2 separate regions of the Homo sapiens genome follow, and region 1 is linked to region 2. The links come from fine-mapping of genetic effects on gene expression. A gene starts in region 2. The other region holds a variant in brackets. All regions are shown on one strand. Distances are between the middles of the regions.

What was found.
Region 1: its variant is fine-mapped to the expression of INPP4A in whole blood (TOPMed, PIP above 0.99).

What each region holds. Positions count from the first base shown.
Region 1 is chr2:98,503,114-98,519,252 of GRCh38, forward strand. INPP4A (inositol polyphosphate-4-phosphatase type I A) reads left to right here. Exons shown (of 25, transcript NM_001134225.2): 2 at 15,851-15,912. Among named protein-coding and RNA genes, the nearest start is that of INPP4A, 66 kb to the left of the region's middle. RefSeq lists enhancers at 4,689-4,748, 5,209-5,268. The variant C/T (reference allele first, on the strand shown) is at 10,936.
Region 2 is chr2:98,435,905-98,452,043 of GRCh38, forward strand. INPP4A (inositol polyphosphate-4-phosphatase type I A) reads left to right here and starts at 8,954. Exons shown (of 25, transcript NM_001134225.2): 1 at 8,954-9,181. RefSeq lists enhancers at 1-664, 1-450, 451-1,194, 2,857-2,906 and a silencer at 8,784-9,423.

The DNA of each region.
Region 1 (16,139 bases), 67 kb after region 2:
GGTCTGAGCAGGGGTCTGTCTTTGCTGGTGAGAAGGGATGCTCATTGCAATTCTTGTGGGCAGGTTCCTCCCTGGTTTGCCCCAAGTGAGAAAGAGATTTGTCTTCAAAAGCCCAGTAGGAGAGTCCAAGAGAGTACCAGGACTTTTGAGATTGGTTTGAACAATTGAGATCCTAGGGAGTTCTTCACTGCCTGCAAGCTAAAACCCAGCTCTGTGGTCTGGTGTTAAAGGATCTCCAGAATTGACCTCGTCCTGGCTCTCCAGCCCCATTCTCTGTCCTTGATACACAAGACTTTCCTGTTTCCTGAGTGAGTGCTTGTTGCTGGATGCACCTGTGCCTGTTCCTTTTGAAGTCAGATCAACTCGCACCTCATCTGGATCATCTTTTGCCAGATTTCAAGCTTCTTCCTTGCCTCTGTAGCAGCATGGGGCATGCATCTCATTTTGTCTTGGAGTTGTGTTATCTGAATGTTTTACTCCATCATTAAACTGTTGGATTCTTGCAGGCAGAGATCACTTCTGATTCACTTGTGTGTTCACTGTAAGTGCCTAGCTCAGTACTTGTTGAACAGATGAATGGACAGTTCCAGATTACAGACTCCTTTGGACACTCTCATCAGAAGGCATTTCAGGTCATCAAACCAGGCTTGCGTGACAGGATGACAGAGACTCCTTCTCCTGCAGGCAGGGCTCCTGTCTTCTGCCCTGGTCCCTTCCCTATTAGCCTGATCTTTGCTGCTGGTTGAGAAGAGGTGCCACATGAGAAGAAGGCAGATGTTGCTGTTGAGCATGAAGGTGCTGCGTGTCAGTTGGCACTTGTCCCTACATGGTTGAACTTACTCAACCACAGCTCTGGTGGGTAGCTACAGAGCACTGCCCAAGGAAGGGCATGGGCCTCAGAGGCACAGCTTATTGCACTCTTTTAAAAACTGCATTTCTTTTTGAGGTTTCATTATTCCAGCCACTGTCAGCTTTGCAATAAAGAGCTGTGGTCAGTTCACTGTGGAAGAGGCCCATGGAGGACTGCCAGTGGGGGTCCTCCCTCACCAAACACGGAACGCTGAACAACCAGCAACACAGCCGAGTAGCTGAAGCCATAGAACCCTCTCTCCAGGAAGGTCCTATATAAACATCAGGACTGCTTGCTGCCCTTTTGATTTGTTTTAATGAGAATAGGGAAGACTGAAGTCCTTTTGTGTCTCTGCTAAGTGTTCACCCCAACACTGAATGTTTCAAACAGGATTCCATTTTCACAGCTAAAATAAACAGGTTATACACCACTTTGCCAGAGATCTACATGTAGTAAAGTTGCTGAATGTGTGACCACTTTGTGTTTCCATGGGACCTAGAGGACCAAGATGTCTCTCCCTGATTTCAGTTTGTTGTTGAGGAAGCTAGAAACAGCATTGTAACGTTGGTGCTGCCACTTGGAGGCCTTGGGCAGGTCATCCCCAGTCTCCTGGCTTACTGCCTGGTTTCTAAAATAGCATTGTCTTCCCGGCATTTCATTGATCTGTGATGGTTGCTTCACATTTATAGCCCTTTATGGAATTTTGTTGCTACTCAGAAAATTTTTTATTTTCTCGTGAAGCCAATTTTGACACTTGCGAATTAGAAGGCAGGCTTTCCTAGTGCTTAGAAAAATAAACAGAGCCTGCCTGACTCCACTTGTCTGAAGCACGTTATTATTAACTTTCAACTTATTATCAGTTCTGCTCTTAACGTGGCGCTGTAGAAGGAAATGATGTGTGTGGTGTTAATCTTCAGTGCCTCTTCAGGCCCACGTGCCATCCTGCTGAAGGTGCAGGACTGGCAATGGCAAGGGGGATCTACAGCTTTGGCTGGCCTTGACATTCTGCATCATGTGATTGAGCAAGCCTGAGACCATCTTACCAGATTCACTCTAGGCTCTCTGTCTTTTCTTTGTTTTCCCAAAGCTCTGTTAGCATGGACTTTTGAAAGTTGCCTGAATATTAAAGTACTATACTAATAACTTGCTTTCTAGTAAACAAAACCAAAAGTTGGCTTAATGGTTGCTCACTGACCTGGCATAAACTAGAACACAAAGCTTCCCATTTAGAAAAGGTTCAGGCAGCCTCCTGCTGGGATCTGCCCAACCCCTCTAGGAGGTGGCATGGATGCCCACCTCTTCTTCCAAGGGTGCACTTTGCCTTTAGGTTTGGGGAAAAGTACTGGGCGAGCCTTTGGGACTGTTGTGTCTCATGAGTGGGCTGACCTTGGTGGAGGCTTGCGTTTCCCATGTGGGGCCTGACTTTTTATGTGTCCAGCCAGAGTGATGAGCTCGTTCACTTTCCCTGCAGTGCTTCCTTGTTGAACCTGAAAGAGAGGACGTGGGAGCTTTTGTAGGAGAGAGAGGACACATGCTTTATTCTTGAACTGTGAGGTGTATGTCACCAGAGAGAATTGGAGACAGCGGTGACTGTTTCTCAAAACAGCTTGCACACTCTTCCCTTACCAAATTAGGATTGAGTAAAACCTGTTGGTAATAGTAAATAGAAGGAAGTTACAAATAAAACACAGTAGTCATAAAAGCAGAGCAGAGGAGCCCTGCTCACAGAGCCAGCCGTCACCACAGACGCCTGGGCTTGAGTTGTGTCTTGCTGATTCAGCAGGAGGGTGCATTTCCCCTTCCACTTTCCTGTTGAAATATATTATTTCTGTACAATATTTATAGAATCCCTGTCTCCACCATTAGAAATACAGAATATTCTTGCTTTTTCACTTTGCTATTAGTTGATATTGTTGGCTAGGTTTTGTCTGTTTATCCTGTTCACAAATTTTTGTTTTTTAAACTTTATTTTTTAACTATTTTTGACAGAAACAATAACAATATTTCTTCGAGGGGTTTAATTTCAGCTTAATTTAAGAAAAGAAAATCAAACATGAATGATACAAAAAAGAATCTGCTCTCATCCTAAAGTTCTGCCTTTTGCTTCTCTAGGAAGCCCTGTTTCCTGACTAGAATTTAGTGTTGCTTGATGGGAAAAGCTGGAGATGGAGTCAGAGACTGAGTAACCACAGGAGATGCTTATGAAGACATGGGTGGGGACAGGGCGGGACATAATGAGGAACTCTACAACTGAAAAAGATGATGCCTTTTATTAGCATTTGGTAGTAGTCGAATTAATGTGCTCTGCACTCTCTTCTGCATATCGGAAAGAGCACTGGACTAGTAAGGCCTGCCTTTAGGTCCTACTTCTGCTGCTGCTGCTGACCTTGAGGGAGCCCCTCTACCATTGTGAGCCTGGCTCCCAGGCATCAAACTAGAATAGCTGTCTCTCCCAGCCCAGCGGTGTGGTGTGAGGACCAGGCGAGTCAAAACATGTGGGCAGCATTTGCAAGCTGTGTTGTTGTTGCTCACACTTATATTTCTTCCCCCTTGAGATTTTTTACCTACAGAGACCTCTAGACAAGGTGTTTCCTCCCATGGAGACCAGATGAGGCAGGTGAGCGGGCAGAAGGCACCTTGGCCTGAGAAGTTCTTGGTCTCCTCCTCTCTTGACCCTCTTCTGTGGATTGGAAACATTGTGAGAAACTACGTCCCTTGCTTGCATTGGCAGCAGACACTGTTGAAGTCCTGGGAGAACACGATGCTGTGAACAGACCGAGGGGAGGAATGGTGGCTGCTCCTCACAAGAGGAAGGGGTCCTGGGCACATTTGGACTTTGCCTCCTGGAGTGGCCCACAATGCGGGCACTCCCCTGTGGCAGGGAGGGGGAGTCAAGGAAAGGAACTCAGCATTTTCAGGGCTGCATTTTCACACAGCAAGCCCTAAAGCTGCGTTTGTTTCCTGAAACAATCTTGATTTCATTCAGAGGAGGAAAACGACATTTTGGAGAGTCTGCGGTCTGGGGTGCTTTGATCCTCGTTCACAGTCCAGGGAGGTGTAGCCACATCCCCCTCCTCTGCCCTGCTTGGCAACTCACTTTTTTGTGGAATGGTGGCCGCTGGCCACTGCTGTTTTGACCAAATAGCTGGGTGGACCCTGAAGGGGCCATTCTGGCCATTTCTGGCCTCAGGCTGGGTGACGGTAGAGGATGTAGTGTCAAGGTTATGCGTGACTGATCCTTTCTGTAAAACAGCCCATCCCATCCCTCACATTAAAGGAATATAAACCCGAGTTCATTTGTGTTGGGGTTTGCTTGTGTTAATTTATAGATCACTTTTTTTCTAATTGTTTAAATGTTCTAAACAAAAGAGTTTATGACTAATTATGTGTTTATGTTGTGTGTCTGATACAATGTAAAGCCATCTAGTTAACATGAGAGTTATTTGACCATTCTGTTTAAAGTTTAAGAAACACGTGCTGTAGGGAAATCTCCATTTGGTTACTGAAAGTTGTGATGGATTGAAGGGGTGGTGGTGCTCCACTGCTTTGTGGGAGCTTTCTCCCACCCAAGCTCATGGGTAGTGTTGAAGCCCCCATGCTACAACGTGACCCCCACCCCCAGCCTGGGGGGCCTGGCTCAAGCTGGAGAGAACTGGGAGAGCACCCATGCAGGCGGCCTCTGGTGGCTGGAGCTGGAGAGTTTCAAGTTGGGGGCTGTCTCAGCTCCCACCATGTGGACTGGCTCATTTGCAGAGTGGGAGGATGATGGACATGGGTAAGCAGAGGGGAAGGGCCACATTTGCTGCCAGCCTTGGAGTCAATGGGCCAGCTCAGCCATGTTCCTGCTGAGGTGTTTAGCTCAGCCCAGACTCCTGAGACAAATACGCCTTTCTGCCTAAGCTCACCCCCCTGCACAGCGTCCTGGCTGCTCTATATAGTGTCTTAGCCAGGCTAGCAGGAGTTCCCATGACTGTCCTTACCATGATGGCATCGTCACTGCATCCCCTGGGTTGAGGGGGTGGGTGGTGAGGGCATGGGGTGAATGCAAAACACTGTACGGCAAGGCAAAGGACATTGCTGTGGCTGGGATGTGGGCCGCCCACTTTGCATTCTGTCCTGAGAAGCCATGAGCAGCTGCAGCCACACCTCTCCTGAAAGGGAAGAAGGAGAGAAGCAGAGCTCGGGTTAGAGGCTGTTCTAGTGGCTGGGGCAAGTCAGGGTCCAGCTTCCAGGTGGCCAGCTCTGGGCAAGGGAAGCAGGAGCAGGCACCAGGCCAGGCCTGACAGCTTTGTGTTTGGGTGGAAGAAGAAAAGGGAAGAGAAATCACCATCTTTGGCAATGAATAAGGCACACCCAGCCTGCTTTGGGGTTTAGAGCCTCCTGCACTCCCGCCTCCACCATAGAGGAGCCAGACTGGGTTCATGCTCCACAGTCTTCCAGCTGCGTCTCCTGGAATGAACCTTTGAGTAACAACTCTGAGTGAGTGATGATACCCCCCTTATTGTGGACCCACACTCAGAGATAAGCCCAACTCACAGGTCACGGGGAAGCCCGTGTCCTTATCTCTTCAGTTCCCGGCCCTCTTGGAGCAGCATGTCTCCTTTGATGAGGGGGTTGAAATACTGGATGCTTTCCTCGGTCCTTTCATACACTTATTCAGAAATTTATGTGACACGCTGGAAGGACTTCCTGGACAACAGACGGGCAAACTTTCAGTTAATTGTGTGAGGGCTTCAAGTGGTTTCAAGTGACAATGGAGTAAGAAATGAGACTTGTCAAAGTCCTTGCCTGTTGTAGGAGAGAGAACCGCGCTGCTCCTGGTGCACGCTGACTGCAGTCCTAACCACGCAGCTCTGACAGCAGACCGCCATGTACAGTGTTCCTGTTGTCTTTGTCTGTGGTATTGTGAAATTGATGTGGTAATCAAATGACGAATGAGGCCTGGTGCGCGGGAGTGAGAGGGGTCATGTATGGGAACACTGGGTTGATTCACCTCAAGAAAAAGCCCCAGAATCCCTGGCTGCAGAACCCAGGGGTGCCGCTGCCTGGAAAGGACAGAGTAGCAAGCCAGCCCCTCACCCAAGGGAAGGCTTCAGAAGAGGCTTGGCCCCCACCATTGTGGGCCTCAGGTTGTCTACCATTCATCTTTGTTACACTTTGTGATGTAGCTCTGGACCAAGCCTCTTATCATCTTTGTATCCCTAAGGCCTGCTCCATAATAGACCCTCAACTGTTTGTTAAAGCAGGAGTCCACAGTCCCCGGGCTGCAGACCAGTACTGGCCTGTGGCCTGTTAGGAACTGGGCTGCACAGCAGGAGGCGAGTGGCAGGCATTACTGCCTGAGCTCCACTTCTTGTCAATCAGCGGTGGCATTAGATTCTCGTAGGAGCACAAACCCTGTTGTGAACTGCGTATGTGAGGGATCTGGGTTGCGTGCTCCTTATGAGAATCTAACTAATGCCTGATGATCTGAGGTGGAACAGTTTCGTCGCGAAACCACTCCCCTTGACCAGCCCCCCAAAATTGTCTTCCACAAAACCAGTCCCTGGTGTCAATAAGGTTGGGGACTGCTGTGTTAAAGAGATTGCCAGTTTACAGAGAAGAAACAGCATGAGGTGCAGAAGCAAGAAATTGGAGGTGCTGAAGAAAGAGTGGCTGAAGTGTGTGGTGTGGAAGGCAGTCGGCAGATCCCCGCCCACCCCAGGCTGCTCCTGGCACCTCCCAGACATTGCGCTTGTGATTATTGACACATCTCACTCATCTCCCAGATTGTGAGCACCTGTTTTGCTCAGCACAAACATTTTAAAGCACTTTTTTCAGGGCAACTTATTTTCAAACTGCTTCTTACAGAAAATCCCCTGAACGTTCATGGTATATGGGTGAACCACAAGGAGCTGAGCTGCAGTTGTAAACTGGGCTGTCCCAAAGAACTCCAGGAGAAGCTGGGAACCAAGAAGGACATAAAAGAAGTGAGGGAATTGCCTGCCTTGTTATCTGAGGAAGGGCAGTCCCAGAGAGGGTGGCTGATGCAAAGGCCACACCAGATAAAAGTCTAAACAGCAAAGAGGCCAGGGCAGGAGCAGGATGAAGACACTGCTAGGAGGTTCACAGGCCCCGTCATTGCAGTTGGACACAGACTGTGAGGACTGTGGGAGGGACGCTGGTCAAATTCCCAGGGTATGGGAGTTGGGGTACTAAGGGAGTTGAAGTCGTACTTGTGGGGAAGATAGAGCTAATAGAGTTGTCAATGGATTGGATGTGGGATGTGAGAGGAGGAGGAGGCCAGGATGTTATTTCTTGCCTGGAGCAAGTGGAAGGACAGAACTCCATCTACTGAGATGGGAAACCTTGAGGGGCTGGTGAGGTGAAAGAGGAAGGCTGGAACGGTCTGGGCTTGTTCTGCTCCTGGAGCATCCTCCTCTGCCCTCTTGTTTACAGGGATATCCATGTCCCTATCCAAGGTATCTCAGTCAGTTCAGGCTGCTATAACAAAATAACTGAGACTGGTAAACAGCAGAAATGTACTTCTTAGACCTGTGGATGTTGGGAAGGCGCTGGCATTTAGGGTCTGCTGAGGGCCTTCTTGCCATGTCCTCACATGACAAAAGGTGAAGGGCAAAAAGGGCCTACCTAGTTCCCTCCAGCCCTTTCATACAGCACTAATCCCACCTATGAGGCCAGAGCCCTCAGGGTCTAATCACCTCCCAAAGGCCCCGCTTCTTAATACTATCACATTGATGGCTACATTTCAACATAAGGAATTCTGGGGGACACATTCAGACTGTAGCACAGTGACTGACTCCCTCCATTGGAGTCTGGGATGTGCATTTGTATTCTGGTTCAGGCCCTGTATTATAGTAGTAAGCATATTTATTAAACTAATGAGGCATGTCAGTTAAGTAAATGAAGTTAACTCATTGCCATTGCTGCCTGTCCATCATCACTGGCAGACAGTAGGGCTTGGGAAATGGAAAGCCAGAGATAAATGAACATCTCCCAGTGAGCACAAGCTCGGGGGCCCTAAGTCAGGTCATTTGTGTCTGCAGGTGAGAAGGGATACGCATTGCCAGCATGTTACTTCTCTTCCTGTGCTTGATTCAATTTTTTTTTTTTTGAGATGGAGTCTCGCTTTGTTGCCCAGGCTGGAGTGCAGTAGTGCGATCTGGGCTCACTGCAACCTCCACCTCCCGGGTTAAAGCGATTCTTCTGCCTCAGCCTCCCAAGTAGCTGGGACTACAGGCACGTGCCACCACGCCCAGCTAATTTTTTGTATTTTTAGTAGAAAGGGGTTTCACCACGTTGGCCAAGATGGTCTCGATCTCCTGACCTTGTGATCTGCCTGCCTTGGCCTCCCAAAGTGCTGGGATTACTGGGCCCCTGTGCTTGATTTTTCTAAAGCACATTACTTTCCTGTATTTAAGCCCTAGCAGCGTTGGATGGATGTTTTGCAGCATGCTTGGGTGTTAAGTGTCCTTTGAGTCAGAGCTTTACTCACAGTGACCCTCTCCTGCCCTGTGCAGGTATAGAGAGCTGGGAGGTGGGAGGTGGGAGAGGGCTGGGCCCCAGCTCTGAGGGGAGGAGGAAGCAGACCTCTTCAGTACAAGAGGACCATGATGCTGCCCCCTCAGAACATGGATGTCTATCCTGGAGGGACAGAGCACCCACCTCACTTCCCTGGGAGTCCAGGGTCCACTCACACTCCTCTGATTGGGAGACTCTGAATTCCTTCCAACAGTAGTCGTAACTTCATTTGACAGGCGAGGAAACTGATGCACAGAGATGGGACCCTGTGGAAGGTCACATGCTTCACAGCGGTTCACCAGGTCTGATGCCATTGCCTGGGCTCCCCTCCCCCATGCCACCAAGCCATATTGCTTCAAGGAACAGGCCTGTGCTCTCATGTTCCTTTTCAATAGCAACCTTTGGGCCTAATTTTTGGTGATTATAAACTGTAGCGCAAGCAAAGTACCGTGGACCTTGGTGAAAAGTTCCGGTTGGAGGAACTGGAGAAGGTAGGAAAGTTGGGTAAAACTCACATAGACTTAGCTGTAGAGAAAGGGCTTCCAGGCTCACAGATGGCTCCAGTACAAGCGCTGTGGGGGCCAGCCTCAGGGGAGGTTAGGAAAAGCCAAGGTGAGAACCTCACATGCCAAGGTGACAACCTCACAGGGCTGACAGCCCATGTACTGAGCTCTATGCGGATGTTTTCTGTGTTTCTTCACATATGTGCTTGCTCCTCAGTGTGTCCTGGTGAGACCAGTGTTATTTCCGTTATACAGAAACTGAGGCTGAGAGAAGCTCAGCAGCTCTTTCACCTATGGGGGAGGAGGGATCTGAAGTGGGATTAGCTGAGCAAGTGGGTGGATTCCTGAGGCCCCACTCTGGGCCTCACAGGTTGATCCAAGGGTTTAGTCTGCGGAAGGGCAGGTGTTGACACCTGTCTTAATCCATTTTCTGCTACTCCAACAACATACCACAGCCTGGGTAGTTTGTAAAGAAAAGCAACTTATTTCTTACAGTCTGGAGGCTGGGAAGTCCTGGAGCATGGTGCCCGCATCTGGTGAGGGTCTTCCCATGGTGGAAGAGTGGAAGGTGGAAGCCAGCATGAGAGACAGAGAGGAAATCGGGCTAAACTCCCGATTTATCGGGAATCCACTCCCCTCACTCCTACAGAAACAGCATTAATCCATTCATGAGGACAGAGTCCTCGTGTCCTAATCACCTCTTAAGTGCCCCGCCTCCCACTACTGTTAGAATGACAATTAAGTTTTCAACACAGGAACTTTGGAGAACACGTTCAAACTGTATCAAGAGCCTTTTGTGGACCAGGGTGCTGGGGGCCTGGTGGGCTTGGAGCCAGAGCCCCGAGAGGCATGAGGAAGGCCTTCCTGAGACCCCTCCCAGGTCCCCTCCACCTTGTCCGTGTTCCTGCAGCATGTGGCCTTTCCATCCTAGTTAATACCTGGGCCTTTGAGGCAGCATTTTTTGTTTTTGTATTTTATGCTAGAGAAGCATATTTGACTTTGTTTAAAAGGTTAAGATCTTTCCTAAGCAGATGGCTTTTGTTTGAAAGAAAAAAAAATGGAAGGCCTGCTTGCTTCCACTATTCCCTTGCACCGTAGGATGGGGAAGGACACCCAGGGTTGGAGTAGTCTCCAAAGTGGGCAAATTAGAATCAAGGACCCCAACTGCTGTATCGTAGGCCCAACTCCTCCTGCATCGCCTCCCAGAATCAGTCCTTCTGCTTTTATGACCCATGCCAACCCCACAACCCCTTCCCACTTGACATCAGATGGCAGTTTTCTCCAGTGTTCAACATCCTCTTCTTCCTGGGCGGCCCCCTCAAGTTGGCCATATTTAAGGAAGAATGAGTTTTGGTGTGTTCTCATCTCATGGTCACACGCTCTTCTTCTCATACCTGTTTTATCATTTGCTTTGCATTAAAAGTTGATTCATAGCACTTAACTTTCTCATTGGTTATGTAGAGACATTCATTCACTCACTCACTCACTCACTCACTTACTCACTCATTCCAAATATAAACCAGAGGAAGTTTCTGCTGCCATTGGCTATTGCTCTGGAATACTTGGAAGCAGGCCTTCCTGGTCTTTGCTGTATGCAGCACGTACCTTGGCTGGTGACAGACCTGAGCGGATGCTTGGGAGCAGAATGTGAGCTGTTGTGGCAAGCCTGCACACAGGCCAGTGCTGCCTTGTCTTTGGAGTGGAGCCTCCAGTTTGCTGGTCACCTTGGGCTTGGCCATTCTGGAGTTACTGCTCCTGTTCTCTCTGTTGGCCTTGCCTTGTCCCTGCTGCCCCTCCCTGTCACCGCAGCCATTCTGGCTCTGGCCCATTCAGTTTATGGCATCAGTGGCTGCATTTTACTTACCCTGTGCCCATCCCCATGTTTGTGCCATGTCATAGAAAGTCCTCCTAGGTGCCCGTTGTTCTCTTATTTGCTGGGCTTCAAGAATTGGTGGCCCTGAAGCCCCCAAGGGTCCCAGGACCCCTGTTAGGTGTAGACAAGGTCTGAGTAGATCCCTGGGTAGATTCAGTTTCCATCTGGCCCTAGGGGACCCATGGAAA[C/T]GGAGGCTGGTCTGGAACACTGTGGTAGAGAGTGGGTCACATTTTCTTTCTAGGTTGGATTAACAGCTCTAGTAGAGCCACTTCAGTGAACCCGTCGTCTTTACGTTAAAGTCATCTCACACCATGGAGTCTCCAGAGTGGTGAGGTCCAAGCCTAGCCTAGGGAATATTGGGAGTAGGGGAGGCTCAGGGGATGTGTTCAGGGTGTTCTGAGCCCCACCTGGAGTTAGAGAGGGGGTGTGGTATTGTGAAATATATACTTGGTCTACCTCCCTCTTTTCCTGAGGTATTCTTAGAATCTCTGGAGCGGTAAGAGTATCTTTGTATGCTAATGAGAGAATCTCTGGAGCGGTAAGAGTATATCTTTGTATGCTAATGAGATGACTGGTGGCTGGGGGCTCTTAAATTTAGGATTTGGCTGGTTGCCAGGGTAACCAATCCCATGATTAGAGGGCTGGAATTTACAGTCTTCCACCCTCCCACCTCTGGGGAGGGGAGAGAGGCTGAAGGTTGAGCTGGTAAATCAATGGCCAGTGATTTAGTTAATTATGTCTATAATGAAGCTTTCATTAAAGACCCAAAAGGAGGCCAGGTGTTATGGCTCACACCTGTAATCCCACCACTTTGGGAGGTCAAGGTGGGAGGATTGCTTGAAGTCAGGAGTTTGAGACCAGCCTGGGCAACATAGTGAGACCTCATCTCTAATTTTAAAAAATTAGTAATTATCCAGATGTGGTGGCACACACGTGTGGTCCCAGCTACTCAGGAGGCTGAGATGGGTGGATGGCTTGAGCCCAGGAGTTTGAGGCTACAATAAGCCTGATGTCATTGCACTCCAGCCTAGGAGACAGAACAAGACCCTGTCTCTAAAAGCTGGAAAAAAAAAAAAGTACAAAACCCCAAAACTCCAAAGGACTGAGTTCTGGGAGCTTTTGGATAGCTGAGCATGCAGAGGTTCCCGGAGAGTGGCACATAGGGCGGGCAGGGCAGCTCCACGCCCTTCCCACATGCCTTGCTCTGTGCACCTCTTCCAGCTGGAGGTTCATCCGCATCCTTTGCAGTATCCTTCCTGTCTGTCTGCAGGAAGGTGATATTTGTCTTTCTGAGGTTATTATTAATAGTAACTTTCAGTGCCAGTGAATGGTGTGACACCTCACTGATCTATGATTTTAGCTGTCTTGGATTTGGGGTTTCTGAGAGTAAGTCCTTTCCTCTTTCTGCCCCTCTAAAGTAGCCTCTTTCTTAGAGGCTGCTGACTCATGCTCAGCTTCATGCCAGCCTTTCATTTTACTTTCTCTCTTGTGCTGCCTGTGTTTGGAGAGCAGAGGCACAGTGAAGCTTCTCAGCCCATTTGCTGCCACAGTGACAGCAATAGGCTGTGGTGGGGTAGGACGGGGGTGGGGTAGGACGGGATCCGGTGGGTGGGGCAGGGAGAGGGGCCCCCATTGCACTTGGGCTTTTTCTTTGGGTTGATAACGATAGTTCATATTTCATCTCCATGTGACCTTGAAAAAAATCACTCTGAGCATCCGTGACCTCATCCGTGCAACTCCTTTTAAAAATTATTCTTAGAAGAACCCCAGTGAATAAGCAAAAGTGGAGCTCTGATGTGTTAATCCTCACCCCTCAACTCCAGCTCCGGGGAGCCTGAGAGGTTCCTGAGGTGGAGGGACCTGCAGTACTCCCGCTAGGCCTCTGGCAAACGTTTCCCAGGACTGCTGCTGAAGGCCTTGCCACCTCACTAGTCCTGTGTGAATCCTAACACCCCTCCCGTCCTGCCAGTGCCCTCTCCACCACCCCTTTCCCTGCCCCCCATGGCTGGAAGGGACATCATGGGAAGTGGGATAGAACCTCAGGGTTTACTGTCCACTTGATGGCCTGCCGCCTCTTGTCGGAGGGGTCACATGAGTGCGCAGAGTGAGGAATGGGAGCTGCTCACTTCATGGGTTATTGCTTCTTTTTTCTTGACCCCAAGAAAAAATTCCAGCCCCCTAGACAGCTCCCACACATTCTGTCTCCTCTTCTGCTTAAGTGCAGTTTTTCCTCCTAATGAACTCTGGTCTTCAAATGGAGCTGGGAGGAAAAACAAGGACCTTGGGAATATACGAATCCTTGGTGAATTACCTTATATTAATGAGACCAAGAAGAGAAATCGAGTTCAGCTGTGCAAATTAGCTTTGCGTTCTGGGCCTTGATGACTTAAATTGCAGATTCTAATTAAATGTCCCCAAATAACTATGAAGTGCTTCTAAGGTCTTTTTGACCTAAAAGTTTCCGTGACCTGTGAACTCTCTCAAGTGTAAAATTAGTCTGTAGATGTACCCCTTTAAGCATTTCTATCTCCAGAAACCTCATGATGCCTAGGATATAAACCACCCTCCTAAGGGCAGAGCAGGCTGGTGGAGTGGGCAGGGACCCTGCAGGGAGAGGTGGAAAGGGGTAGGCATGGGTGAGTTTCGGAGCTTCCCCAGGGCTGGCAGGATGTTGGGGTACAGATGTGTCCCTCTGTTAGGTGGCCTGTCTCCACTGTCATAAGTGAAGGGGGTGACCGACACCTTCACTAACAGGCTGAGCAGGGCAGCAAGGCAGGCAATGGAATGCTTTAGACACACTGGGAAAAGGTTCAAAAGGGAAGAGCCTCTTCTTCAAGCTGAAGTCATGCCTGGGGTGCTGCCCTGCCTCTGGCCAGCATGGGGTGCAAATCTTCAGTGACACAAGAGTATGGCTGTTAGAGAAGGAGGAAGACAGTTCCCCATGATCACACCCCCAGCATGGCTGTCATCTTGATGCAGCCGCCTGCTGGCTGTCCCCTCTGTACAGTACCTCTTTAAATGGCTGCAAACAGAGCAAAGGTGGGCTATTTCTTTAAAAACACATGATGCAGAACTCACGTAAGTTTTTTTTTTAATGCTATGTTGTCTTGTATACACTTTGTATTGGGGTATAAAAATCACCTGTGTACAGCTCAGTGAATTTCACACAGTAAAGTCTGTGTGTAACCCGCACCCAGATCATTTCCAGAGCCCCGGAAGCCCTCTCACCCTCCCCAGTCAGTACCCACCCCTTCAGGATACCACTCTCCATACTCTGGATGCCACAGATTCGTTTGGCCTGTGCTTGAACTTCGTATGAATGGATTTGCCTAGAATGGTCTTAACTTTTCCCCTTGACGTTGTTTCTGAGACTCATCCCATTGTTTCATCTGTTCTACTGTTGACGAACATTTAGGTTGTCTCAGGTATCTTGCTACTGTGAATGTTGCTGTTCTAAACCTTCTCTACAGGCTTTTGGTGAGCATAAGTGTGCGTTTCTGTTAGCAGCTCCCCCTCTGAGTTGTATGCCAGGTCACAGGGTAGGTGCATGTTCAACTTAAGTAGAGACGGCCAGTTTTCCAGCGCGGGTGACTATTTACGCTCTACCAGTAGTATCACTTCCAGTTACTCCACGTCCTCATCAACACTTGGTACTGTTGGTCTTTTGTCATTTTTGCTATTCCAGTGCTTGTGCAGAGGTATCTCATGGGTTCAGTTTGCATTTCCCTGATGACTAATGGGGTTGAAGAACTTCTCCTGTGTCTGTTGGCTTTATTATGATCATTTTGATAGCCAGATAATAGTGTGTCTTATGGATGTTCCAGAACATTCTTTTCTTACCTATAGCTGGGCATTTGGATTGCTTTATTATTATAAGTAATGCTGCAATAAGCATTTTTACCCAGTAGTCTTTTCCATGTTCTATACTATTGGCAAGAGTTTTGTTATCATTTACAAATTTTGATAATTAATGCCAGATGGCTTTCTGAATGTTTGAACTACTCTAAGATGGAGTAACAATATAGGAGAGTCCTAGACAGCTTCCCCCAGGTCCTCCAGCAATGTGTATTCTCATTGAAGAACAAACAAAACTCTTTTGGAGGACGAATTTAGGTGAAGGAAAGCATATTTAGCATTGCGTTACTTAATGAGTTTGGTCACTTTTTCAAAATGTTTACCATGTGTGTTCCTCATTTATAAATTCCTACCTTTTGCCACTTGCATTTTGGTGAGTTTTTTGTTAATGTGTACAACCATTACTGTAAAAAGCAGATATTAGTACTGTAAGCACTTTCCTGTTTTACCAGTCACATTGCACATTGCTTCACTTGTGTGCCTTTTGACGTTAACCAGCAAATCTTCCCCTTGGTGATTTTTATTGTGGCTCCCCCACCAGGCCACTGCCGTGTCTGCAGAGATGCCCAGACTGAAGGTCCCTGGGCACCCCTAGTGGGAGGGATAGGAGCATAGCCTGTGAGAGAAACTGAGTCAGCCCTGGGCTAAGCACTCTGCTCTTGCGGTCATCTGATTCCCCGACCCTGGTGCTTTGAGAGGGATGGCTCATGAGCTGAGCCCTGCCCTGTGGCCTGCCAAACAGCCCCTGTGGTGCTGGGACTGAGTGGGGCCTGGGGGCCCAGCAGCAGCAGCATTGTGGGAACTCAGTGGAGTTTGCAGAGCCCTCTCCTGTTCACGCACATTTGGTTTTCATTGCAGCCCCATGAGATGGGTGCAGCCCATCCATCCTGAAGGGCAGGGCCTTAAGAGGGCCCTGCAGCTTCTCCCAGGGCCTACAGTTTGTGAGTGGGGAAACTGGTCTCACATTCTCATCCCCCTAAACCACACCCAGCTGCTCACCTGGCTCTTTAGGACAGGCCCAGACTCCCCCAGCAGATCAGCCCTGCAGGGGAGAGGAATATGTGCTTTCTCTTTCTCATTTATTTTGGGTTTGAGCAAAACTTGTATTTTTGAGCCAGAAGGTTGGATTGGGGTGTGGAGCTCAAACAAACATGGAGTAGCTCTTGGCCTCCACGTTTCTAGGCATTGCAGTCTCTCAGAAACTTCATGTTTGACCAGCTTGTTAAGTTTTCGCTTTCTTATTTTTAGATGATGGATTTGGACATGCTTCTATGAAGAAATGCCACATGGTCCGAGAGCAAACATGTCCAGTAAGTTGTTTGGTGAATTAACCCAAGGACAGGAGCCCAGGTCCTTCAGGCACAGGGTGTGGACACCCTTTGAGAAGATCAGGGCTGTCTCTGGAAATATGAAGACCTCTGAGAGAGTGTTTTAAACTAGGCTTATTGCTCAGTCTAATTATCTTAACTTGTAAAGGTTGGTTCTTTCTAGAGACAGCAGGAGTTGTAGCATATAGGGTTGGAAAAACCTGAAACAC
Region 2 (16,139 bases):
CCTGGCAAATTCCAGTCAGACCGGTTTTCTGCTCTTGAACCCTGAAAATGCATGCACAGTGGGACATGGAAGTTCATTAGTGATTCTAGTTTCACCCTGACCTTCTGCCTTGTGATCTTTTGTCACCCTTGAAGCATGTGATCTCTGTGACCCACACCCTATTCGTACACACCCTCCCTTTTGAAAATTGCTAATAAAAACTTGCTGGTTTTACGGCTCAGGGGGCATCACGGAACCTGCCAACATGTGATGTCTCCCCCGGACACCCAGCTTTAAAATTTCTCTCTTTTGTACTCTTTCCCTTTATTTCTCAGACCGGCCGACACTTATGGAAAATAGAAAAGGACCCTCGTTGAATTATCGGAGGCAGATTCCCCCAATACCCACCCTTATTTCATTTTGATACACATTTTCTTTCTTTTCTTCTTCTTTTTAATTTTTTTTCTGAGACAGAAGCTTGTTCTGTTGCCCAGGCTGGAGTGCAGCGGTGTGATCTCGGCTCACTGCAACCTCTGCCTCCTGGGTTCAAGAGATTCTCCTGCCTCAGCCTCCTGAGTAGCTGGGATTATAAGCACCCACCACCATACCTGGCTAATTTTTGTATTTTTAGTAGAGACAGGGTTTCACCATGTTGGCCAGGCTGGTCTTGAACTCCTGGCCTCAAGTGATCCGCCCACTTTGGCCTCCCAAAGTGCTGAGATTACAGGCATGAGCCACCGCACCTGGCTGATATATGTTTTCTAATAACCCAGTTTGTCTTTTCTTGCCTTCAGGCCGTGAAACTCCAAACGGTCATGCAACTGGAGCCTTGGACCACAGCCCCTTCTGCCAGGGACCCTTAGATAGGCCTCTGAGGGAGCTCTGACTGCCGTTTTCCTCAAACAGTGCCTCCTGTCAGCATGAAGCAGTTAAGATCGGCCTTTGTCCTGATCCTTATTCTTATTCTAACAGCAGTTAGATGTACTTCTTTAGAGGGGGAAATGATAGATGCAGGAGGCAGATAAGGGGGAAGGTCCCCAGAGAACCTCCCATGGGCCTGCACACTGGGAGAACAGGGTGGAGCCAGGGAAAGTTTGTGCCGTTTGCAGTGGGGAGGAGCCTGGCCTCTCCTTTCCTGTGTAGTGGCCTGGGATTCAATCTGTGAGTCCTGTTAGCAGGACTGCGTCTTGCTTTGCTGAGTTTTTTTTTTTTTTCCTTTTTTGCCCAATAATATCCTGCTCTACTCACCCTTCAGTGTGTCGTCTGTGTGCCTAAATTTTCCTGGTCTTGTGACAAGAACCAGAGTTTAGGGGAACTAAGGAGCAATGCTCTGCAACAGTATGTTGAGTTTTCACATTAATTTTTCTCAAAATATTTTCTAATTTCCCTTCTGAGTTCTTCTTTGACCCTTTGGTTACCGAGAACTGTGTTGTTTAATTTCCATTTACTTGTAAATTTCCCAAATTTCCTTCTGTTGTTGATTTCTGTTTTAATTCCATTGTGCTCAGAGAACATAATTTGTATGACTTCAATTCTTTTTTATTTATTTAGGCTTTTAAAAGTCCTACCATATAATCTATCCTAGAGGATATTTCATGTACAGTTGAACATGAGGTATGTTCTGTTATTGTTGGGTGGAATATTCTACAACTTTGTTAAATCTAGTTGGCTTATGGTATTGTTAATGTTTTATATATCCTTTTAGATTTACTTCATTATTTTATCCATTACTTAAAGTGGAGTACTGCAATAATCAATTACTACTATTACAATGTTCACTTCTCACTTCAATTCTGTTTTTGCTACATGTATTCTCGGGTTCTATTGTGGATGTATATATGTCTATAATTACTATCTCTTCCTCATAGTTTAAACTTGTTACAATTATAAAATGTCTCTGTTTGTCAGTAGTATTTTTGTTTTGTTTTAAGTTTGTTTTGTATTATATTAGTATAACTTCTTCAGTATTCTGTTGGTTATTGTTTCTGTGGTATACCTTTGTTCATCATTTTACCTTAAACCTATTTATACCTTAAAATTTACATTCATCTCTGTACACAATGTGCAGTTGGATCATATTTTTTAAAAGTCCATTCAGACAATCTCTGCTTTTTGATTGGAGTATTTAATACATTTTTACTGATCCATTGATTGATTGAGACAGAGTCTTGCTCTGTCACTCAGGCTGGAGTACTGTGGTGCAATGATAGTTCACTGTAGCCTAAAATTCCTGGGCTCAAGTGATCCTCCCATCTCAGCCTCCTAAATAGTTGAAACTACAAGTGTGAGCCACCGTGCCTGGCTAATATTTTAAAAAATTTTTCTAGAAATGGGGTCTCACTATGTTGCTTAGGCTGGACTTGAATGCATGACCTCAAACAGTTCTCCCACCTCAGCCTCCCAAAGTGCTGGGATTGCAGGCATGAACCACACACTCAGCCACATTTACATTTAATATAACTTGAGATAAAGTAGTACTGATGTCTGTCATTTGCTGTGTATTTTCTATATATCTTATATCCTGTGTGTTCCTCTATTACTCATTACTGTCTTCTTTTGTGGTAAATAGGCATTTTCTAGTATGCTATTTTAATTTCCTGGTTTTATTTAAATATGTATACATAAAGTCATTTTCTTAGTATTTGTTCTGGAGGTTACAGTTAGCTTCTCAATTTAAAACAATTGAGTTTTTAGAACTTAATTTCAATGACATACACAAACTGTGCTCCAGTTAAGCTCTCTTTACTCCCCCACTTCTTTGTGCTATTATTGTCATACAAATTCTATCTTTTTACATTATGAGCCCATCAACACAGACTTATGCTTACTTTTTATGCAGTTGTCTTTTAAATCAGTGAGAAGAAAGGCATTACACACTGACTTTAAATTTGCCTTAGTTGTTTTTCTTTGTATGAATTTGAGTTACTCTCTAATGACATTTTATTTCAGCCTAAAGGACTCCTTTAGTGCTTCTTAGTGGGTGGATCTGCTAGTAATGAATTCACTCAGTTTCTGTTTGTCTGAGGTAGTCTTAATTTCTCTTTCATTTTCAAGGACAGTTTTGCTGAATATAGAATTCTAGGTCTGCTCTTCCTTCCGTTCCTTTTATTACTTTGAATGTGTCATCTTACTGCCTTCTGGTCTCTATGGTTTCTGGTGAGAAAACAGTTGTTAATTTTATTGAGGATTCTTTGTACATGAGGAGTTGCTTGTTTCTTGCTGCTTTCAAGAGTCTCTCCATCTTTGGTTTTAGATAGTTTGATTATGATGTATCTCAGTATGCTTCTCTTTGAGTTCATTTTAGTTGACAGTTTGATTATGATGTATCTCAGTATGCTTCTCTTTGAGTTCATTTTAGTTGGAGTTTGTTGAAATTTTTGGATTATAGATTAATTTTTAAATCAAATTTGGAAAGGTTTTAGTGAATATTTTTTTCTGCACTTTTATCTCCCTCCTCTCCTTCTGGTACTCCCAATTGGTACTAGATATATCTTAGCATACTTGATGGCGTCTACTGATCTCTTAGGCTCTGTTCATCTTTCTTCATTGATTTTTCCTATATGTTCCTCAGACTAGGCAGTATCCATGGACTTATCCTCAATTTTGCTAATTCTTCTGCCACTCAATCCTGCTATTGTCCCCCTATAATGGATTTTTCATTTCAGTTATTATACCTTTCAATTACAGAGTTTCTTTATATATAGTTATATAATTCCTATATCTTTAACTACACTCTCTTTTTGGTGAGATATTGTTCTCATACTTTCCTTTAATTTTTGACACATGGTTTCCATCAGTTCTTTGAACACATTTATAATAGCTAATTTTAGGTCTTCGTCTAGTAAGTCTACAATTTATGCATTTTTAATGACAGTCTGTTGACTGCCTTCCAGCCTGTGTCCTTTTCTGCCTGTTTATGTGTCTTACAACTTTTTGCTAAAATATAGACACTAAAAATAATGTAATGTGGCAACTCTGAAAACCATGTTTCCCTTTCCCCCAGGGTTTGCTGTTGTTACTGTTTTTATTTCTTTGATGCCTTTCTTGGACTAATTTTGTAAAGTCTGTATTCTTTGTCATCTGTAGTCACTGATACGTCACTGTAGCCATTTGTAGTCCTTACTCAGTTAGCTTAATTGTTCACTAATGATGAGAGAAATGCTCTATCATTCCTCAAATGCTAGAATCAAAGATTTTTTTTTCCTTTGTTTATGGTGGGACTATGTGTGCATATTAATGCATGCCTTCAATTTTCAGGCAGACAATTCACAGCTTTGCCTCAGCCTTCACATCCTGCTTGCTCAAAGCCTCACAGTTAGCCAGAAGTAAAACCTGGGCATTCTCAGATTTCCAGAAATATGTTAATCTTTTTTTTTTTTCTGTTAGATGAGATCTTGCTATGTTGCCCATAGCATAGTTGAGATCTTGCTATGTTGTCCAGTGGCTATTCACAGGTGCAATCATAACACACTACAGCCTCAAACTCCTGGGCTCGAGTGATCCTTCCACCTCAGCCTCCTGAGTAGCTGGGACCATAGGCATGTGCCACCAGGCAGCTTATGTTAAATCTTTTTAATGCCCCCTCCCCATGGACATCTCATTCTTCATTTTTCTTTTTCAAGTTTTTCAGTCAGCCTATTGTTAGCTGTAACTGGTGTCACTACCTGAGGCTGCTGTAATATTAAACAATTGTTACTGATTGTTTTCAACAATGCCCTGTGGAGAGGACCATTTGCACAGGGCAAGCTCTGAGTTATGCCAATTAAAGACAAACCCTGGGAATGTAGCTTTTCCAGGAAGCTGCCAGACAAGTAAATAGTGCCAAGACTCTGGGGATGGGGCTCTTTCAGGTGCTCCACATCCTTTTTGTCCCTCCAGTGGCTGCTAGACTGCTCTTATGGTTGCAGGGCTGTTGGTTTTCAAGGTTACACATACTCTTTCTTCTTCTTCTTCTTTTTTTTTTTTTTTGAGACAGGGTCTCACTTTGTTGCCCAGGCTCACTGCAACCCCTGCCTCCTGGGTTCAAGTGATTCTTGTGCCTTAACCTCCTGAGTAGCTGGGATTACAAGCATGCACCACTATGCCAGGCTAATTTTTATATTTCAAGTAGAGACAGGGTTTCATCATGTTGGCCAGGCTGGTCTCAAACTCCTGACCTCAAGTGATCCTCCCGCCTCAGCCTCCCCAAATGCTGAGATTACAGGTGGAGCCACCGTGCTCAGCCTCAAGGTTACACATATTCTATGTAGTCGTCCCTCAGTATCCATGGGAGATTGGTTCCAGGACCTCTGGTGGATATGAAAATCCATGGATGCTCATGTCCCTTATATAAAATGGGGTAGTTTTTTTCATATAACCTATGCACATCCTCCTGTATACTTTCAATCATCTCTAGATTACTTATAATACTTAATACAATGTAAATGTTATGTAAATCATTGTTATACTCTATTGTTTAAGGAATAATGACAAGAAAAAAAAGTCCATACAAGTTCAGTACAGATGCGATTTTTTTTTCCAGACATTTTTGATCTGTGATTTGGTTGAATCCATGGATGTGGAAACCATAGATTTGGATAGCTGACTGTATCCCTACAAAAATATCCTGTTAAATGGCCTGAAGATAAATTCTCATGTAGGATGGTTCTAGTCCTAAAGATAACACTGTTCACCTCTTAATTATTGTATGTAGATAATCTGAATCAGCTTGCAGCAGGTCGAGCCACAGACAAAACTCCTTGACACTGAGTTAAAGAAGGAAGGGGTTTATTCAGTCGGCAGCACCGGCAAGACTCCTGTCTCAAGAGCCAAGCTCCCTGAGTGAGCAATTCCTGTCCCTTTTAAGGGCTCACAACTCTAAGGGGGTCCGTGTGAGAGGGTCATGATCAATCGAGCAAGTAGGGGTACATGACTGGGGGCTGCATGCACGGGTAATCAGAATGGAACAGGACAGGACAGGGATTTTTACAATGCTTTTCCATACAATATCTGGAATCTATAGATAACATAACTGGTTAGGTCAGGGGTCAATCTTTAACTAGCAGGCCTAGGGCGCGGCGCTGGGCTGTCTGCCTGTGGATTTCATTTCTGCCTTTCAGTTTTTACTTCTTCTTTCTTTGGAGGCAGAAATTGGGCATAAGACAATATGAGGGGTGGTCCCCTCCCTTAAGCTTACTTATTGTATATAGATCATTTAAGTCAGTATGTTCATCAGAATCCCTTGGAGGGCTTGTTAAAATACAGGTCACTTGGCCCCACTTCTAGAGTTTCTGATTCAGCAGATCTGGGATGGGGTCTGGGAATTTGCATTTCTAGCAAGTTCTGGGAGGATGTTGATGTGACTGGTTAGGGACCCCATGTTGAGAACTTCTGAAGGACTGAGATACTTTACCACCAGCATACTTAGCTATCACATCGTGATGCTTAGGGAAGATATAGCATGATATTGTAAACCAAAAGGTGTCTGAGACAGATCTGTCAATTTAGAGGTTTATTTTGCCAAGGTTGAGGATGCAACTGGGAAAATGAGGCACAAACTACAGTAGGATCAGTAGGATCTGTGGCCTATGCTTTTTCCCAAGAGGGTTTTGGGGACTTCAATACTTAAAGAGGAAAAAGTGGGCAGGAGGGGAAAGAAGAACAGTGAATTATGCATTTTTACATAAGGTAAGTAAACAGAGAGTAGAGGAAGAGGTCAAATATGCATTTGTCTTGGGGTGGGTGGAAGGATGATTCCTCCGCTTGTCTTTGTCCCATTCCTGTGACGATAAGCTGTTAATTTACATTGTCAGGGTGAGGGAGGCCACCTGGGGAGATATGTGGCCTTCTATCTTGCAGCTATCTCTTTAGGAACAAAAGGAAGGCAGTTTTTTTTGCATGATTCAGTTCCCAAGCTTAGCTTTTCCCTTTGGAGTAGTGAGTTTGGGGGTCCCGAGATTTTATTTTCCTTTTACAGTATTAACTAACACATGGCTCCCTTTTCTCTTGATAATTTTCATTCTACGGTGGAATTAGGGCCTCATTCTTTGCCACACTGAAAATGTGATTGATCTTTGAAGATTATCCAGAATTACATAACAGTCAAGTGACAGATGTTATTGGAAGCTGATCCTCATTCAGTGTTACTGTACTAAATGAATGAATACTGAAATTAGACTGATATCTATTTTTAAATCTTTATAAATTTAATTTTTTTTTCTTTTTTAAAAGTTAGTGTTTAACAACTTTCTTAGCTTGATTATGACTGCCAGGCGTGGTGGCTCACGCCTGTAATTCCAGCACCTTGGGAGGCCGAGGCGGGTGGATCACCTGAGGTCAGGAGTTCAAGACCAGCCTGACCAACATGGAGAAACCCTGTCTCTACTAAAAATACAAATTTAGCCAGGGTGGTGGCACATGCCTGTAATCCCAGCTACTTGGGAGGCTGAGGCAGGAGAATTGCTTGAACCTGGGAGGCAGAGGTTGCGGTGAGCCGAGATCGCGCCATTGCATTCCAGCCTAGGCAAAAAGAGCGAAACTCCATCCCAAAAATAAATAAATAAACAGCATGGCCATAAAATTTATTGTTTGAACAGGAATACATTTGAGAGTGAAAGAGGGCCCTATTAATAATTTTGCTGCAAAAAGATGTAAACTGGGGCTGTTCCAAGCAAACTAATTGGTCACAGTAATTAAAAAAAATGCAAAAATATTTTTGCATTTCTACAAATTTGATTTTCTTGGCTTTAACTTTGTACTGTGGAGTCAAGGTTCTGTCAATATTTCTTTCCATTTAGCTGGAGAAATAATAAGAGGGAACTGTTTTATTACTAAGTTACTTTTCAGAAGAGAAATAAAATAAAAAGTAAAGAAATAAAAATTTAAAACTAGGACATTTTCTTTTTCTTTTTTCTTTTCTTTTCTTTTCTTTTTTTTTTTTTTTTTTTTAGAGATACAGGGTGTTGCTCTGTCTCCCAGGCTGACACTGCAGCCTCAAATTCCTCTGCTCAATCGATGCTCCTGCCTCAGGCTCCCCAAAAAACTCGTTTTATATTTGTTTATTTTTATTCCAGACTATTGTCTGTATTTTGGTGACATGAGGAGGATCAGACATAATTCTAAATGAGTTCAGAGAATTCTTAATTTCCATTCCTAACTGGTTAATCTCTTTTGTTTTTGAAGCAAATTATATGTTTAAATGCTCTGCCTGAGAAGTATTCTGGTTTATTGAATTAAAATCATTTTAAGAATTTTTTTTTCGGATAAAATGTGAAGACTCAAAGATAAGGATACATTCAGTCCAGTATTTGCCCTTGCTCAAGGAGAAATGCTGTTTTAAAGTCAAAGTGAAAATTTTCTTCCAAAACTTCTGATTATTGTTTTTGTCTATGGAAAAATAGAAACTTGGGGCAAAGTGTAAGGACTGATGCTGTTGCAAGTCTGTTAGTGCACACTTATGCACACAGGCCAGAACAGGTCCGGAAGGACATACACTTAGAGGTTAGCAATTTTCTTTTTTTTGCAAGTCTGTATTTTCAAAGAATTAAGATTTTAATTTTTTGCTTGTCTGGTTGGAATGTTCAGTTTCCTAAACATCTCCTGGGGAGTGAGTACGTCTGCACTTCAGGAAGTGCTCTTGTCCGGAGGGCAAAAGGTTGGGGGCGCATCCCCGGGTCGCGGCTCCTCCAGGAAACTTTCCCTTGGGGATCCGTCAGGGCCTCAGATGCCTCAGTGGATGACAGGGTGAAGATGCCATCGCTCAGTCAAGTCCAGAAGTTCAAGAACTCCTTGCAGGTGAAGCAGTCACAGGATAGGGTGGGATCTTGTGGGAACCTAGCAGTAGGAATTGGCGCGAGCAGCTCGGTCACCGGCCCTACTGTCTCAGAGGGCGGACCCAGCTCGGGCTGGTAGTGGGGCGGGGGTCGCAGGGCGCGGGCCGGGCCCTCAGCGCGCATGCGCGACAAGGGGGCGGGGCCAGGGCGGGGCTGCGCCCGGCGTCTAGAGCGGCGGCGGCTGGCTAGGGCTGCGGCGCGCGTGGAGGGTTCGCTGCTGGTTTGCCGCCGGGTCGGGCTCCGTGGGCCGGGGCAGGAGGACCAGCACCTGAGGCCGGGCCCGCAGCCCGCGACTTCACAGCCAGGCGGCGGCGCTGCTGCTGCTGCGGGGCTCTGGCGCGCAGCCCGGCGGGACAGCGGGGCGGCTGGCGCCGGGGGCCGGGGAGCGCCAGGTAGGTGGGCCGGGCCGGGCAGGAGGCGACGCGGCCGCCGCGGGGGCCGGGGCCGGGGACGGACAGCGGGCGCGGGGGCGCGTCCAGGTCCCCGCTGGGGCGGATGTGGACGGCGCCCGCGGTTTTCATGGAAATTGCACTGCCTAACGGTGCCAGTGGTCCACCTGCGGTGGCGTCTTTTGAGAACAATCCGAGCCCGGCCGACCCCCAGCCCCGTGAAGACGCGGCCGCCCCAGCAGGGAGCCGGGTGCCGAGCGGGCGCGTGGCCGCGGGACGCAGACGCGGTGCCTGCCCGATGCGGCTCCAGGGCTGGGTCTACGGGCTCCTGAAGCTGGAGGCCTTGCCGTGTTTGGGGTGGAAACATAACCGGGTGAAAGTAAACATGCATCTCCGTGTGGGAAATCTGGTCTCCATCCTCGAAACTCTTCCATTTTCTGCCTGCCTTTAGACCCCGACAACATTTCTAGCATCTTTGCTTTCTATATTTTATTTCTCTCTGGCTTTGCTAGTCAATTAATTGAGGCCTGAGAAATGTGCAGGGATCTGTGGCTGTCTCTTGAAAAGCCAGCCAGGAATGGGTAGGCCCCAGAAGACAGACGTTCAAAATGTCAGAGGTAAATTTGTGTCTTTGTGGGCGAAGGAAGGGAATGTTGATGGTCTCGCTTCCCTTCCCCTGTCGCCTGCCCTCTGACATTACATAATGATGGGTTCTTCCTGCCCCGAGTTCATCCGTAATGACAGACCATGAAAATGTTCCTCTGGGTAAGAAAGACCTATATGTGGTAGAGCCCATCTTCTCTTTTGCTTTGCCACTGAATGTGTCTTGTGTTGGGAACCTGCCTAAGAGTGGAATTTGATTTGTCGCCTGCCCCTCAGGGCATTTAAACCAAGGGAATGGGGGTGGGGTGGCGATTTGGGTGTTGCAGAGAAATTCTGACTGGTCCATCTGTTCACAGTGGGTTGTGTGGACCATGGGGAAGCCAGTGGGGTTGAGGACAGAGTGGGTTGACTTCGGTGTGAATCATGGTTCTGCCGCTTGCTGACTCTGGTTCTTATCTCTAAAAGGTGAGAGCAGAGCCTTTTTTGCTGAGTTTGTTTTGGAATCTAGCTGCTGTTGGCGTTGGCCAGTGCACGTAGAATTGCTTGCTATAGGTTGTCCTAGAATTGAGCCTAATTTTTCTTTGGTTGAAAAACACACTTTCTTTAACGGAAATTTTGTTTTTGGATCTAGGCTAGGGCATTTGTTTTGGGGGTTCTTTGCTGAAGTGTCGACTGCTAATGTACTGTTTTCTTTGAAGAAAGATGAATGATGGGGCCCATGTAAGAAGGGCAGTGTGGTTGGTCTGTTGCAGGAGTGGTGCCAGGAGGCCGTGATGCTGTCTGTCCCAGGGGTGGCGTTGCATGTGAACGGGCCTCTCGGTGCCTCATTCCCTGTGATGTCTAGTAAACACGCCTGTGAAGCCAGAGCTGCTTGGTAGAGTTTGGCTTGAAGAAAAGGCTTAAAGAAATGGATGTGGACAAATTCAAAGAGAAAGAAACATTGTGTTTCTACTGAGCTCCTTATAGAATTAGTCTGCTTACCTGGCCACCTTACTCATCATGTAGCTACTTTTTTCATTTAGATTATTCTGTCTCAGGGTGTTTAATCTGCTTGGGTAAGTCTTGTTTCCCAACTAGATTCAGAACCAAGGGCAGATATTATAGTGCCTCCCTGTTTTCAAAACTGGATATTTTGTAGTATTGCTGTTAAACTGAATATTAGCGTTTTTTAAAAAAAAATCACTTTAAGGAAGGATGAAATAAAATAATACACGAGAGCTATTTGTAAACTGTAGAGCACTAGAAAAATGGGATGTGTATGACAGAGAACTATCAGCCCTGCAAGTCCCTTTAACCAGCTGCCTGCCTAAGAGGGAGCGTTCTCAGCCAACATCTCTTCAAATGCACACGGGAATGGACCTGAAGGCGGTGTGGGACCGACTGCCCCACTGATCCCCAGCCCAGGGCTTAACATCTCAAGAGTTCAGTGAGGCAGAGTGGAGGGGGAGGCTTTCCACCAAGACTGTTTCATCCTGTTTTCGTTTTTAAATGAAAAGCTCCTTTTCAGTTTAGTATTCCAGAAAAGTTGCCACAACATCATCAACTACTCATGGTGTCAGGAGGCTTTGACTTTCACTGAGAAAAAAATAGCACAAATCTGCAGCGAAAAAGGCTTGATTATGTTGGTGCTTCTGTAGAACTTGATTAATGAGCTGGTCTTGAGAGAGCCTTCGAAACGGCTTTTTTTTTCAGTGTCCTAAAACAGAAGTTCTGTGAGGAAAACATATTTTGAGGAGACCAATATTAACGCCCATGCAGGCTTGCTTCATTTTGTCTCTGTGTTTTTAAGGAAAATACCATCATGAAGCTAATCCCAGGGAATTTACCTATATTTCTATTCATATGCACATGTTATTCTCTAATTTTTTTTTTTTAGTATTTTGATATAGTTTCAGACTTACAGAAAAGTTGCAAGAATAAGCCAAAGGTTTCTCAGATTCTCCAAATGTGGACATTCTGTTACACTGCTTTATCATTCTCTTGTATTCCTGTGTGTTACTACTTTTTCCTGAACTGCTTAATAGTAAGTTGCAGGCTTGAGGCCCTTTTACCTCTAAATACTTCACTGTGTATTTCCCAAAAAACAAGGATATTCATAACAGCAGTAATCCCCGCACTTTGGGAGGCCGAGGCGGGCGGATCACAAGATCAGGAGATCGAGACCATCCTGGCTAACACGGTGAAACCCTATCTCTACTAAAAATACAAAAAATTAGCCGGGCTTAGTGGTGGGCGCCTGTAGTCCCAGCTGCTTGGGAGGCTGAGGCAGGAGAATGGCGTGAACCTGGGAGGCGGATCTTGCAGTGAGCAGAGATCGCACCACTGCACTCCAGCCTGGAGGACAGAGTGAGACTCTGTCTCAAAAAAAAAAAAAAAAAAAAAAATCATGGCCGGGCGCAGTGGCTCATGCCTATAATCCCAGCAATTTGGGAGGCTGAGGTGGGAGGATCACTTGAGTCCAGGAGTTTGAGACCAGCCTGGCCAACATGATGAAATACTGTCTCTACTAAAAATACAAAAATTAGCTGGGTATAGTGGCGTGTGCTCGTAGTCCGAGCTACTTGGGAGGCTAAGGCATGAGAATCTCTTGAACTCAGGAGGTGGAGGTTGCAGTGAGCCGAGATCACACCACTGCACTCTAGCCTAGGCAGCAGAGTGAGACTGTCTCAAAAAAAAAAAAAAAAAAAAATCATGAAATTAATGTTGATATAACACTATTTAGTGTACAGGTCGTATTTAGATTTTGTCAATTGCTTCGATAATGTCCTTTATAGCAAAAGAAAATCCTAGATCATCTGTTTTGCATTAAGTTTTTCTGTCTCTGTAGTGTCCTTTAATCTGAAAGTTACCACGTCTTTCTTTTGTATTTCACGACATAGACATATTTGAAGACTACTGACTTTTTAAGATAATGCCCTCAATTGGGTTTCCTGTGGTTTCATGATTAGATTCAGGTTATGCACTTCTGGCGGGAGTAGCACAAGGTTGAAGCAGTTGTAGTCTTCTTTTCTCTCTCTCTCTCTCTTTTTTTTTTTTTTTTTTTAAAGAGACAAGGTCTCCCTTCGTTGGAGTGCAGTGGTGCCATGGCAGCTCACTACAGCTTGGACCTACTCCACTCAGTGATCCTTCTGCTTTAGCCTCCTGAGTAGCTGGACTATAGGTGTGTGCCATTGCACCTGGCCAATTTTTAAATATTTTATAGGGGCTGGATCTCACACTGTGTTGCCCAGGCTGGTCTCAGACTCCTACTCTCGCCATCCTCCTGCGTTGGCCGACCACAGTGCTGAGTTTACAGGCGTGAGCCACTGTGCCCGAATAATGCTGCAGCCTTCTTAATGTATCCCATCAGGAGGCATATGCTGTGATTATCCCATTCTCTGGCCCTGCTAACTTTGATCACTTGAATTAAGGTGGTGTCTATCTCATGGAAAAGTTACCATTTTTCCCTTTGTAGTTAATCTGTGTCTTAAAGGAAGAGAATTTGAGACTATGTAAATATAGTTACTGCTCATACAATTAACTGACTAGTTTCAGAATTCATTGATGTTTCTTACCTGAGTCAATTATTATGATAGTAGGCAGATGATGATTTTCATGGTTCCTTCTATATTTATTAGTTGGAACTGTACTGAAAGGAAGAAACCTTCCTTTCTCTATTATTTACTTTTTGATTTACATCACTGGACTCATGAATTCTTGCTTTATTCAATAGATTATAGTCCATTACTCCCATTATGCATTTTGTTGCTCAAATTATCCTAGATTTGGCCAGTGGGAGTCCCTTCAGTCTGGCTTTTGTGTCCTTTTGACAAGTGCTCATCATTCTTTGAGGACTTTTCTTCCAGGCACAAAATCTTCAAGGACTCAGCTTATACTTTCCTTGTCCCAGCCCTGGAATCAGCCATTTCTCCAAAGAGTCCTGGTTTCCTTTAGTGGAGAGTGGTATAAAAACCGAGATGTAGGCACTATGTATTCTCGTTGCTACTGAGGTGTCACCCATTCTAGACCTTCTCAGGGGATAGATGCTCTCATTGTAAACATAAATGTAGTCACATTACACAAAATTTTCTGTGGCTTGCTTTTTAAATTTGTACTCCTTCCATTAGGCTTTGAAACTGTCTGTTTCCCTTTAACTTGGCCAACATTTAAGAGAATAAATCTTGTTAATTTTGCCAATCTAATGGGCAAGGAAGACATTATTGTTTTAATTGCATTTCCCAAATTACCAAAAATATTGGATACCTTTTCTTGTTAATGTATATTTTAACTTCTAATGAATTACCTGTTTATATCCTTTGTTCATTTTTTCTTGTTGGGCTGTTTTTCCTTATCTTACTAGATTGTGGAAGTTACGGTAACTTTGAATTTTATTCTTGGCAGCTTTAGAATGTTTTTTTAAGTGTGATGCTTTTTTAATTTTTTTTTAAAGTCCTAAATGACAAGGAACCCAAGCTTTTCTGAGTACCCCCTGCATGCCAGGCCTCCCTGGACATCCTGTGGGAGGTTCTGTCCAAAGGTGAGCTGTGGTGTTGAGGAGTGGTTAGAGCATCCCCCGAGGGTAGTTAAAAGAGGCTCAACTGGGACTAAAACCCAGTTATATCACCTAACTTCCTTCACAGGATTGAAAAATGAAAGCTTTTCAATGAGGGATAAAAATTGATTACCTGGATTTGCCAGTATCAACAATTTCTGTTTTCAGTATTTTGGTTTATAAATCAGGAATTTCTTTTACACAGTCCTTTTTGCTGAGCATACACATCTTTCGAAACCATTTATTTTATCCCTAGAACTATTGTGGACTCTGGTGCTGCACTTTCTGTGAGCATCCAGCTAGCTGTGTGACTTTGGGCAAGTGGCTTAATCTTTCTGTGCCTCAGTTATTTCATCCACAAAACTGGGCTGCTGGTAGTAGCAGCCCCAGAGGCTTGTTGGGGGATTAAATGAATTAACATTTAATCCTGGTGCCTAGTAAGTGTGCAGAACGGAAGCATTACAATGGATTCGTATACAGAGTGTGGGTGGTTGGCAGAGCTTGGAATTAGATCAGCCTTTCCTCTGTGGATTTAATCTCTTAGTTGTCTCTTTCTGTTTTTTTTGAGATGGAGTCTCACTCTGTCGCCTAGGCTAGAGTGCAGTGGCTCTAGCCTGCAACCTCGGCTCACTGCAACCTCCGCCCCCTGGGTTCAAGCAGTACTCCTGCCTCACCCTCCCTAGTAGCTGAGATTACAGGCATATACCACCATGCCTGGCTAATTTTGTATTTTTAGTAGAGACGGGGTTTCACCATGTTGGCCAGGCTGTTCTTGAACTCCTCACCTCAGGTGATCCACCCACCTCTGCCCCCCAAAGTGCTGGGATTACAGGCATGAGCCACTGCACCCGGCCTTAGCTGTCCCTTTCACCATAGCCTGTCTGGGATTGGAAAGCCAGGGTCCTGGGTGCAGTGTGCATGTCTCTTTCTGGTCTTTGCACATACCTTTGTCATGCCCTATCAGGCTGTCAGGCCCAGGCCTGCCAGCCAGCCAGCCCAGCTGGCCTCTGGTGTTTGCCCACAGCCCTAACCTGGAGCATGGGTGAGACTGCTGGCCTTTTAATATGAAACTTGTTCAGTGAGGCTCACCTGGCGAGGGACTTAGGCACAGTAAGCAGATGTATATGGTGGGGGCAGTGGGGGGATCATGCTCTGGTGAGGTCTATTTTCTGGAATAGGGTCAGGAAGACAGGGATGTCCTCTGATGTCCAGGAAGAAGGGTGGGGACCTCTGAAAGAGGAAAGTGTTTACCCGCTGCCAGCTCCGGTCCTGGGATCCTCCTAGAGCGCTTTCCCTGAGACACCTGGTAGTTTTCCTGACCTCCGGTTGCTGCAGCGCCCCTCTTTTTGCACCTCACTAGGTGGTATTCTGATGTCTCCTGAAAACCCCCTGCCCCTTTCCTGCCCCTCCCATAGCCCTCACGCAGGTGGTGTCAGCTGCTGTTATGGAAGCTGTCTATTATTAATTCACCCTAGCATATTGAACGCCCTTCTTTCCCTCTCTCATGTTGCTTGCATCTCTAAAGGGTGTATTCTCAAACCAATTAATTTGAATTTTCAAGAAGGATGACCTAAGTGTATAAACTCTGGAAATGTGAAGGAAGTATTTAGGCAGATGGTTGTTTCTGGGAAACAGGGCTCTACTAGGAAACAAGGATGCCCAGTTCAAGCTTCTCCCTGGATTATGGGGTGTGTCAGTTGGGATGCTTTTGGTTGCCAACAGTGACATTTATTATCTCAGAGAACTGGAGTCTCCATCAGCATGTCAGCAGTTTCATCAAGGACCTCGATTCTGCTCCTCTGTCCAGCCATCACTGCCGGTTTCATC